Regions from separate parts of the Homo sapiens genome. Here region 1 is linked to region 2. The links come from fine-mapping of genetic effects on gene expression. Tissue or cell type: lung. Region 2 holds a variant in brackets; the other region holds the start of a gene. All regions are shown on one strand. Distances are from middle to middle.

Evidence for each region. PIP is the estimated chance that this variant, and not a neighbour inherited with it, causes the effect.
Region 1: it holds the start of ERC1, and the variant in region 2 is fine-mapped to the expression of ERC1 in lung (TOPMed, PIP above 0.99). The same link has a PIP of 0.9 or more in monocytes.

What each region holds. Positions count from the first base shown.
Region 1 is chr12:988,323-993,547 of GRCh38, forward strand. It overlaps ERC1 (ELKS/RAB6-interacting/CAST family member 1), which reads left to right and starts at 2,901. Exons shown (of 19, transcript NM_178040.4): 1 at 2,901-3,000. It also overlaps a transcript of RAD52 not described here. RefSeq lists enhancers at 1,732-2,294, 2,856-3,417 and silencers at 2,116-2,165, 2,576-2,685, 2,706-3,215, 3,421-3,715.
Region 2 is chr12:1,048,321-1,053,545 of GRCh38, forward strand. All of the region lies in intron 2 of ERC1 (ELKS/RAB6-interacting/CAST family member 1), which reads left to right. Among named protein-coding and RNA genes, the nearest start is that of ERC1, 60 kb to the left of the region's middle. The variant A/G (reference allele first, on the strand shown) is at 2,759.

The sequences.
Region 1 (5,225 bases), 60 kb before region 2:
TACTAATTAGGTTTTCCTTTCTAAATTCTCTGAAGTTTCTGTTTATCTGCCCCCACAGTCCATGTTGGAGACTTTTCTTAAATACCTAATAACACTTAGTTGTCTGTTCATACGTATGAGGCAGTTGGAATGCTGATGGGGAGTCTTGTGAACTTGGGAGGTGTCTTAGTCTATTTTATGTTGCTATAAAGGCATGCCTGCAGCTGGGTAATTTATAAAGAAAACGGGTTTGTTTAGCTCACAATTCTGCAGGCTGTACAGGAAGCAAGGCACTAGCATCTGCTCAGTTCTGGTGAGGGTTTTTGTGCTGCATCAAGACATGGCGGAGAAGGTCAAGGAAAAGTGTCTGTGCACATGCAAAGAGAAATCAAACCCGAGGTGAGTCCTGGCTTTACAACAAACCACTCTCCAAGGAACAAATCCATTCTCCTGATAACCAACATAGTTTCGCAAGTGTGAGAACTCACTACTGTAAGAATGACACCACGTCCTTCATGAAGAATCTGCCCCCATGACCCAAACACCTCCCATCAGGACCCACCTCCCAATACTATCACACTGGGAATCAAATTTCAACATGAGATTTGGTAGAGACAAAAAAACCATATCCAAACCATAGCAGGAAGTTCCTGCCAACTTGCCCAACTACACTTTAAAGTGGGTGGGTAGGAAACCAGCTATTGTGCTAGAATAAAGAATACTTTACTCTTAGGCCCTTCAATACTCAGTTAACCCAAATCTCCCCAGATTATCAGAGTGCTTAATTTTAGCCTGGATAAATGCCTAGATATTGTATCTGAGATATAGGGAGGGTTCTGCTCTTCCTTATATAGACCTTTATTTAGTCTCCCTGGTCTCAACTCTGCTTCTCACTCTTGCTCTGTCTGGTAGTTATCTCCAAATCTCCGTCTCCCTAAAGCACTTCTGGGCTGACAGGTCCCCTTCCTTTCTACAGCACCCTCTACACCCATTCTACATTATGCTTTTCTCCATTTTATTTTGTCAGACCACACTTACTTTTTGCATGTCAAATAAAAAAAAATTATCTTCCGATGTCCCCCTTCTCATTTTCTATTTTGTATCACTTTTATTTATCATCATTTTATGGGGTCTCAGGAAGAAGAGACAGTAAATACATGTGCTCGGTTAGCTAGCTTTAATCAAAAATCCTAAACGTAGGTTTTAAAAAAGATAACTGGAGCAGGGCAGGAAATAATATTTTTTGCCAGTGTGGTGGCAAAAAATAAAAAACAAAAATCTGAATCTGTGTTAGGACAGTATTTCCGTGTATAACATAGCGCTTAGCAACTTAATTCTCCAGATCCACATATTTTAAGGACATGATGTATCTCAGACACCTACTTCAAACCTCACTTTACAGTTAAGTAAGACCACAAGTAGAATGAATTGCCTGAGGCCACACAAGTAGACAGTGGGAGAATGAGAACAGAAATATCTATTGACTCCTAGTTGAATTTTCTCTTACCTTACCACACTGCTAGGGAGTAACAAGATGGGCAGATCACGAGTCAGATGAGAAAGGTCATGAAAAATAGTCAAAGGATGACTTTTCCTGGGTAAATAGCCGGATGTCCAAGAAATGAAAGGCTGGTCTGGCAGCAGCACATCGTCTAACAGTTGGTAGTCATATGTGGGAAGTACTGAAGGGGGAGATGACAGCAGGCCCAGAAACTGCAATGATCCAAGTGCATGTCGATCCTGGGAGGGAACAGTTAAGAGTCCGGGCAGGATGAAACAGTAGAAACTGGTGAGTGAATGAATGTGAAGGCTGAGGAGCGACTGCAATTTGTTAATGGGATTATGAGGCAGTATAAAGTGGTTAATTACGGTGGCGGAGGTAAGCAGGAGTAAAATGATGGCTTTTAACTCCTCTCAAGGACACCGAAAATTATTTTAATAAACACTGGAAGGCTGGGAATAAATATAATTCACACCATTCTTACTTTCTTGGTTTAGAGATAGCTTATCTACATCCTTAAATTAATGGCTGTAGCTACCCTCTGCATGGCTCCAAAAAAAAAACAAAAAACAAAAAACAAAACCAAAGCCGGCTGCGAGTCTGCACGAGAAAATCGGGTTGCACCAGGCCCCAGCCGCCCGCCGATTCGCTTAGCTGTCGGAGGCTAAATAAACAGCTCCCGAAGCAGCGTTTGGCACAGCGCAGGGTCGGAACGTGGACACTAATTTCCGCCCACGCTCCCCGCGTCCTGGCGGGATCACCACAGACACGACGTCCATTGCTGGGGTCCTCGGCGATGCCCGTGTGCGCAGCCCCGCGAGTCTCAGGTCAGAAGACCACTAATTTCGCGGCCGCGTTCCACGAAGCTAAGGGGCAAAAAACCAGCTTTCTTGGGACAAAGCGTCCCCCCAGCAGCCAGGGTCGATCCCGGCGCTGCTCCCGCGGCGCTTGGCTGCCCCGGGCGTAACGGGCCACGAGAAGTAGGGGGTGGGGCGCCGCTTAGGTTTGGGAAGACACGAAGCGGCTCCTCGGGCTTCCAGCGTCCACTTCCTACGGCAAGCAGGAGGAGACAAGCGCCACCCTGCGCTCGCGGAGCCGACCCCGGCTCTCCCCTCCCGTGGCCGCAGGGGTCGTGTGTGTGTGTGTGTGAGTGTGTGTGTGTGTGCAGGGACGCTCCGCGCCCATCACTCTGTTTCGGTGCTAATCGACCGCCGTGGCGCCGATTTCCCCCGCTTCCCAGTTCCTCACCCGCGTGCCCCGGAAGGCGCCCGGAGGCCCCCGGGCCGCCGCGTCACGCTCCCGGGAGGCTGAGGGAAAGGGAGGCAGCCGAGCCGGGAGCCCGGGGAGGCGCGCTGCGCCCCGCGGCGGGGCTGGGGGCGGGGCTAGGTGTCTCGCGCAGGGGGCGGGGCGCGGTGACGTCGCGGGCGCCTGGGCCGTGCTGTGGCGGCGGCGGCGGCGGTAGTGGCGGCGGCGGCGGTGCCTGGGCGGCAGCAGCAGCAGTAGCGGCAGCCCTGAGGACGGTGAGACGGCCGCGGCGGCGGCGACAGCGCGGAAGTCGCGCGGGACCCAGAGCTTCCCCCCTGTCGCTAGTGCTGAGGCTTTCGCCTTTCCTACCCAGCTTCTTGCTCACGGCCCGGGCTGGGCTGGGCAGGGCAACGCGCCCCCGGGGAGGGGCGGAGCTGTAGGTGAGGCTTCGCGACCCCCTCCCCCTCCTCGGCAGCCCGGGGGGTGGGGAGGGGCGGGCCCCACCCAGACCACCGGCGCCCACCCGCGGGCTCCACCCAGCCGGGCTCCGGGATCGGGCGGGAGCCGAGGCGGTAGATGTGGGGATCCTGGGGCGGGAGGTGGGGGAGTGGGGACTGGGGCTCTGGGCACTTGGGGAGCGGAGGGGGGGAGGCTTAGGACTAGTGAAGCCGCGGACGAGGTAGTGGGGAGACGGAGAAATTGGGGAGCCATGAGGTTGGGGTGCGGTCAGGGTGGATCTTTGGGTTAGGTGAGTGATGTAAAATGCTGAAGATGATTCTTTTCTTTTCGATGAAATGGTGAGATAAAAGATGAAGTGTATTTCAAAAGGACGATGAGCTGTGCATGTTGCCTTTGAGGCAGTTGCAGAACCTATTTTATTGCACTAGATCTCACGTTTCTACTTTAGGGTTCGATTCTTTTTCTTCTGGCGGGGTGGGTGGGGGGTCGGAGAGGGAAGAGAATCCCCTTACTTTGGCTCAGGTAAATTGTGAGCGTGGATGTATCTGAAAGTTTTACACCGAAGAAGAGGGAGATCTTCGGTTTAGACAACTTCGTTCCGGCAGCCACCATTTGGGTCGCATTACGCTTAGCTCCTTCAAGGTGGTGTCTTCCAGTTTTTTTTCCCCCCAATGCCTAAAAGATCTCTTTATACCACCCTTTTACAGGCTTTATCCTGGCCCCTTGAGAGAAGGCCCCAAACTCAGGTGGTTGCTTTGGAAGGCACATTGCTGAATAATAGTTGCAGGTGGTTGTGGTTGACTGCTTTGGGTGGATAAAGTGAACAATTGGAATAGTTCTGTTGGAGCTAATTATATGAAAAATGCTTAAATGTTTTAAAGTACAACCGTCTTTTATAGCGTGTTGCTTGCTCAGTACACCTTGACTTTTAGACATTTTGTGTTCAGTGCTAAATTGTTGAAATTTTATTTCTCATTTGCAGTTATGTTTCTTGCAGTCTTTATTAAAACACTTTAAAATGAAATGGAACTCTTTTTTTTTGGTAGGCTCCTCAATTTCTGAGAAATGTTCTTGGAGTCAAGTGCTTTAAAAACATTTTGGGGGCAGGTGTGTCACTTTGTATGGAAATATTAGAGTAAGCAGTGTTCAATGTTCTTCACATCACTCTTTCACAACTTAGCACTGTAAATCAGAATCTTCTTTTCTGGATTCTTGCTCCCTGTTAGATTACAGTATTCTCTGGCCCTACTTATCAGTTAGTGTCATTTAAGCTATTTCTTGTTCAGAAAACAGGTCCCATGATGGACATGTATTATGTAATGGATGGAAGTAGACATGGCTCTCAATAATTCATTTATGGAGGAAGAGAAGCTGTCAGAAAGTGGGATTTAAGCAGTGACTTTCCCAAGGCTTGCCTAGTTTATTTGGGAAAATAGCCAGAGAAGTGCTTTCTTGTAACCCAAAAGAGAAATATACAGATAAGAATTTCAGTAGTTGCAGATCGTTGCTTTTTCTAAGTGCCTACTTAATGAGCAGATTATTGTCTTCCAGCAAATACTTCTACTTTATAGAGAGGTATGGGAAACAGGACATAATAGGTATTAAGTGAGAAAGTGTGTGTTCCAATTTTTAATTATAAATAAAAGATTTAATTAACTGTATTCAGTTAATTCATTTGGTAAAGTGAACAGTTTTGACTTTGGATTAGTTAGAAGGAAAACAAAATTGACATATCTAGTTTTCGCTTTTAAATTATACATAGACTTAATTAATTGGGACAAATGTGAACTAAGATACTGGGTAAAACTTGTGTGTACTCCTAAAATGACATTTGCATGGCTGGTAGTAAGCTGTGATTCTTGTCCTTGTAGGAATGAAATCACATAATTTGGGGAAAGTCTTAAGGTAAAAGTAAGCTATTTCGTTTAGCATTTCTTGTGCCTGAAATTATGCCTACATTTTATTTTTCAAAAAATGTTGCTTGCTAGTCATTACTTGTGATATCCTTGTTGAGTCTACTGAGGTGTTTTTTTTCCTTCAT
Region 2 (5,225 bases):
AATGTGACTGTGCAGGTTGAGATGGCATGTTACAGCTCCTGCCACCTCTTTTTCTTGTGACAGATGGCTTCCCCTCCTGGTTGTAATCCACTGCTGATTTTTTTCAAAGAGCGAATACCATGTGTTCCCCATTTTGGCTCTGGTTGTGTTCTGCCCACTCATTGGCTTCAGAGGATCTTGAAACAGGAGGTACTTGCTGCTGGCATTTATGGCAGGAAGTGGATACAATTGCGATACTTTGTGCCAAGTGTTCATTTATTAGAAAAATTGTGCTTCCTAAAATTAAACATTATTTCTCTGTCACATCAAGAGTAAAGCTAAATTTTATTACTTTTTAGAATATGCTTTTCCCTTAATGTTGTATTATAAAAATTTTTTGGTGGCAAATTTATTACAAAATAGATTTTTAAATCTGAATTTCACATACTCAAAGATTTATAGTCTGTGCAAGACATTGAATGAGTAGCTCTAATTGCACTAGTATAATATAATTACGAAAGGGATCTGTATCACAGAGACTTCTGATCACAGAAACAGTTGGAATTGTTTGTGATGTGTGGTATTGAACTTGTGATTGCATATGCTTTGTGGTACCTATAGACAGTAGTGTTTGTCTATTTTAACTCTCTTGCTTCGGATCTCCCCTTGAGTAGATTCAGCTAAATAAGTTATAAATTTCACCATCTTAGGCCTTCTTGAAAATTATAAGTATCTGAGACAGCTTAATTTCATAAAGCTACTGTGCATATTTGGAAGTATGGTGTTTGGTTTTTTAAAAAAACCTGGCAGGCCAGAGTAAGCAAATTGTTTTTTTATGTTTTTGTCAAGAAACACCCCAAGATAAATGTAAACAAATATTTGCGCATTACCGTCATTGATACTGGAATTTGACATTTCTGTCCTCAGAAGTCACTGTTCTGTCAGAGTCTGCTGTACTTGCCTGAGTGAATAGTGCAGGATTGGCAAAAACGTTGCCTGCTCATGGCAGATCATCTCTAAATCTCTCTTGACAACATCTCTAGCTGAACCCAGATCAGTGATTCTCAACCTTGGCTGCATATTGGTATCACTGAGAAACTTAAAAAACAAACAAACCAAAACCTGATGCCTGAGTCTCACCCAAACCCTCAGATAATTTGATTTGATTGGGCTTGGGGGTGGTCTTGCTGTGGAGATTTAAAAAATCTCCCCAGGTCATTCTAATGTGAAGTCAAGGTTGGTTGAGAACCACTGGCTACTACAAATGGATAAGAGTTGGTAGTGTGAACTGAAATGTATTTGCCATCCTCAGTCTAGTGAGGGGATTTTCTAACCATGCCACAATATATAAACAATTTGCAGTTTGAATGGATAGAGGTTGGTTATCATTGGAATTTGAAAGGACAAATGACAAGTAACATCGGATGATTTACCAGTGTTTTGTGATCTTTTTTTTTTTTTTTTTTTTTTAAGATGGAGTCTCACTCTTGTTGCCCAGGCTGGAGTGCAATGGTACGATCTCAGCTCACTGCAACCTCCACCTCCCGGGTTCAAGCGATTCTCCTGTCTCAGCCTCCTGATTTACAGGCATGTGCCACCATGCCCGGCTAATTTTGTATTTTTAGTAGAGACAGGGTTTTACCATGTTGGCCAGGCTGGTCTCAAACTCCTGACCTCAGGTGATCCGCCCGCCTCGGCCTCCCAAAGTGCTGGGATTACAGGCGTGAGCCACTGCGCCCGGCCAATGACATTTTAAAAGAATTGCCTTCAGAGGGTAGCTGGAAAAGCAAATGGATGTGGGACAAGAGGTTGTTCCACAACCTCCTGGGGTGGGGATACCCGTTCTGTGATGGCATTAAGGAGAACGAGAGGGCTGAGAAGAGAGCAAAATGATCAGCCCTGGATTTTGGGACTTGGCCAAAAAAGAAAGGATGGAACAGGACGTCAGGATAAGATCTAAGACTTGAAGCAGAAACTGTACTTCTTCCTGACCCAGGAGGTGTGAGACAGGGAAGTGGTGGTAGCAAACAGGATAGAATGAGAGGTTCCCTTTTACACCCAAACTTGTTCTTTGCTTAGTGGCAGAAGGCTCAATTTTTCTTTATTAGAGCATTTTCTTTATTACAGCACTATGAGCTTTACTATATGTGAATCACCTGTGAGCACTTGTTAAAATTTCTGGATCCCTCCCAAAGTTTCTGGTTTAGGACTGCTGGGGGAAGGCTCAGGAATCTGTATTTGTGAAGGTTAACTGAACCTTTTTTGTTTGCTTACCATCTATTCAGTGTTTTCCCTATTCTTTGTTCTATTTATTTAGTAATTTAAAAAATTGACTCATTTTAAAAAACTGAATCTTATTTTAAAATGAAACTGTCACTACTACACGTGGAAAACATTTGCCAAAAAATAAAAAATGAAAGTGTAAATACATAACTATTAAGAAAAAGGTCAGGCCGAGCACTTTGGGAGGCCGAGGCGGGTTGATCACGAGGTGAAGGAATCGAGACCATCCTGGCCAACATGGTGAAACCCCATCTCTACAAAAAAATGCAAAAATTAGCTGAGCGTGGTGGCGCGTTCCTGTAGTCCCAGCTACTAGAGAGGCTGAGGCAGGAGAATCGCTTGAACCCGGGAGGCGGAAGTTGCAGTGAGCCGAGATTGTGCCACTGCACTCCAGCCTGGCAACAGAGTGAGACTCAGTCTCAAAAAAAAAAGTCATATATGTACCACTCTGAAGATTATTTTTAATATCATTTTGGGAACTACTAGCGATTCTGAT[A/G]CAGATAGTTTTGTCATCATACTTGGAGAAATATTGAACTAGAGACAAAAAGTTTCACTTAGATTGCATGATTTTCAGCTACTGTTGCACACTTGGAATCTGGGGCATTTTTAAAATACTTTTGGTCAGCCCCCATCCCCCGATTTAATTGGTGTGGGCTACAACCTGGACATCAGGATTTTTAAAACACTCTCCTAAGGTAATCGTAATGTATATTCTGGGTTGAGGATTTAGAGGTTAAAAAGCATATAATGCAGTTAGACTAAGAAGCATAAATTCATGAATACTAAAATACACTTATCTCGGTATAATTAGAAATAAAGAAGACTGGCTGGGCATGGTGGCTCATGCCTGTAATCCCAGTGGTTTGGGAGGCCGAGGCAGGAGGATCACTTGAGGCGAGGAGTTTGAGACCAGCAAGGGCTACATAGCAAGGCCTCGTCTCTACCCCAAAAAAAAAAAAAAAAAAAAAAAAAGGGCAGAAGAAAAATTAGACAGGTACAGTGGTAGGTGCCTGCAAATCCCAGCTACTCAGGAGGCTAAGGTGGGAGGATTGCTGGAGTCCAGGAGGTTGAGGCTGCAGTGAGTCCTGATCCTGTCACTGCACTCCAGCCTGGGTGACAGAGCGAGACCCTGTCTCTTATAACAAGAATGAAAAACACCACAGTGACCACCTGGGGGATGTGGGCAGGGGGAGAGGAAAAGAAGGTGAATTAATAAAGCACTAAGGCACCGTGTCCTTATGATCGCCTCTGCTCCTGCCTGCTTCTCTTGTTTTCTGTTCTTGATGAATAGCGTGAATTAATAAAGCACTAAGGCACCGTGTCCTTATGATCGCCTCTGCTCCTGCCTGCTTCTCTTGTTTTCTGTTCTTGATGAATAGTGTGAATTAATAAAGCACTAAGGCACCGTGTCCTTATGATCGCCTCTGCTCCTGCCTGCTTCTCTTGTTTTCTGTTCTTGATGAATAGCAAGAGCTTTTAAATTGTCAGCTAGTCCCCAAACGTAAGTGTGCATCAGAATTAACTGGAGGGTTTGTTAAAACACAGATTGCTGGGACTCATCCTCAGAATTTCTGATCGAGTAGGTCTGGGGTGGGGCACAAGATTTAATTTCCCAGGTGATGCTTCTGCTGCTGGTCAGGGAACAACACTTGAAACACTCATCTAGTTAACCAAGCTGAAAACTTTAGGACATTAGCCTGACATTTATTGTCTCTGTGTATTTTATATATATCCAGTGAACTTTAAAAATAATTACGTAAACACAAACCTGTGTTTCCATCACCTAGAATTAGTAAATGTTAATGGGTGTGTGGATAAATATTAATTATGAATAAATATTGCCTTTTTGGTGATAATAAACCGCTGTGTTTTATTTCACACTTTTGAGTACAAGGAATAAAAAAATACAACTTTTCTGGGCTTGAGATAAGTGCTCTTTAGGTTAAGCTATAACACCGAAGAGAAAATAGTGCTCCATTAACTTGTTTCATCAGTCTTTTAGGCAACCAAATGAGAAAAGCAAAGAAAAACAGTACAGTCTAGATTGTATACTCCATCTGAGAAAAAACATTAAAAAGTATTACGTATCTGAAAATGAAATTGTCGGACAGGCGCGGTGGCTCATGCCTATAGTCCCAGCATTTTGGGAGGCGGAGGAGGGCGGATCACCTGAGGTCGGGAGTTCAAGATCAGCCTGGCCAACATGGTGAAACCCCGTCTCCACTAAAAATACAAAAATTAGCCGGACATGGTGGCAGGCGCCTGCAATCCCAGCTACTCAGGAGGCTGAGGCAGGAGAATTTCTTGAACCCAGGAGGTGGAGGTTGCCGTGAGCCAAGATGGTGCCGTTGCACTCCAGTCTGGGCAACAAGAGTGAAACTATGTCTCGAAAAAAAAAAAAATTGTCAGCTGCAATCATTTTATCCTGTTTTTCTGTTTGAATAGTTTATTTGAATAGTTCATGGAATTAATAAGTTGAATTTATTTCTATATCTAGAAACTTGGGAGGGGAAGGGTAAACTGTTATGTATGGTATAAAAAATTTAAAAGTGTTGTGAAAATACTATTTTCAATTCTAAAACGCTTGTTCAATTCTAAAATGACTTGTTTCCCCTATGCTTGATATAGATCAAGAGGGAAAAAGTATTAATGGGTATTATTTATTCAGCAAACATTGAGTTTACATTCAGGACTGTCAACTTGACTATGGAACAATTCAAGTAGCTTTCGTTAGTCTTGCCTAGCTTTTCGTTATGCATTAAATATGTGCTTCATTCAGGAGGAGATCACCCCACCCCAGCCAGGTTAGTTTTGTCAGGTAGAAATAATGCTGTTTTTATATTCTCATGAAGAGTGTATGTATTTTTTCATCGTGGAGCTAATGCTAGGATTCCCTGAACTTGCTAGCTTCTATAAATCCTCCTCACCATTCTTCGAAGCAAGGGCTTTGGAAAGTATGGACT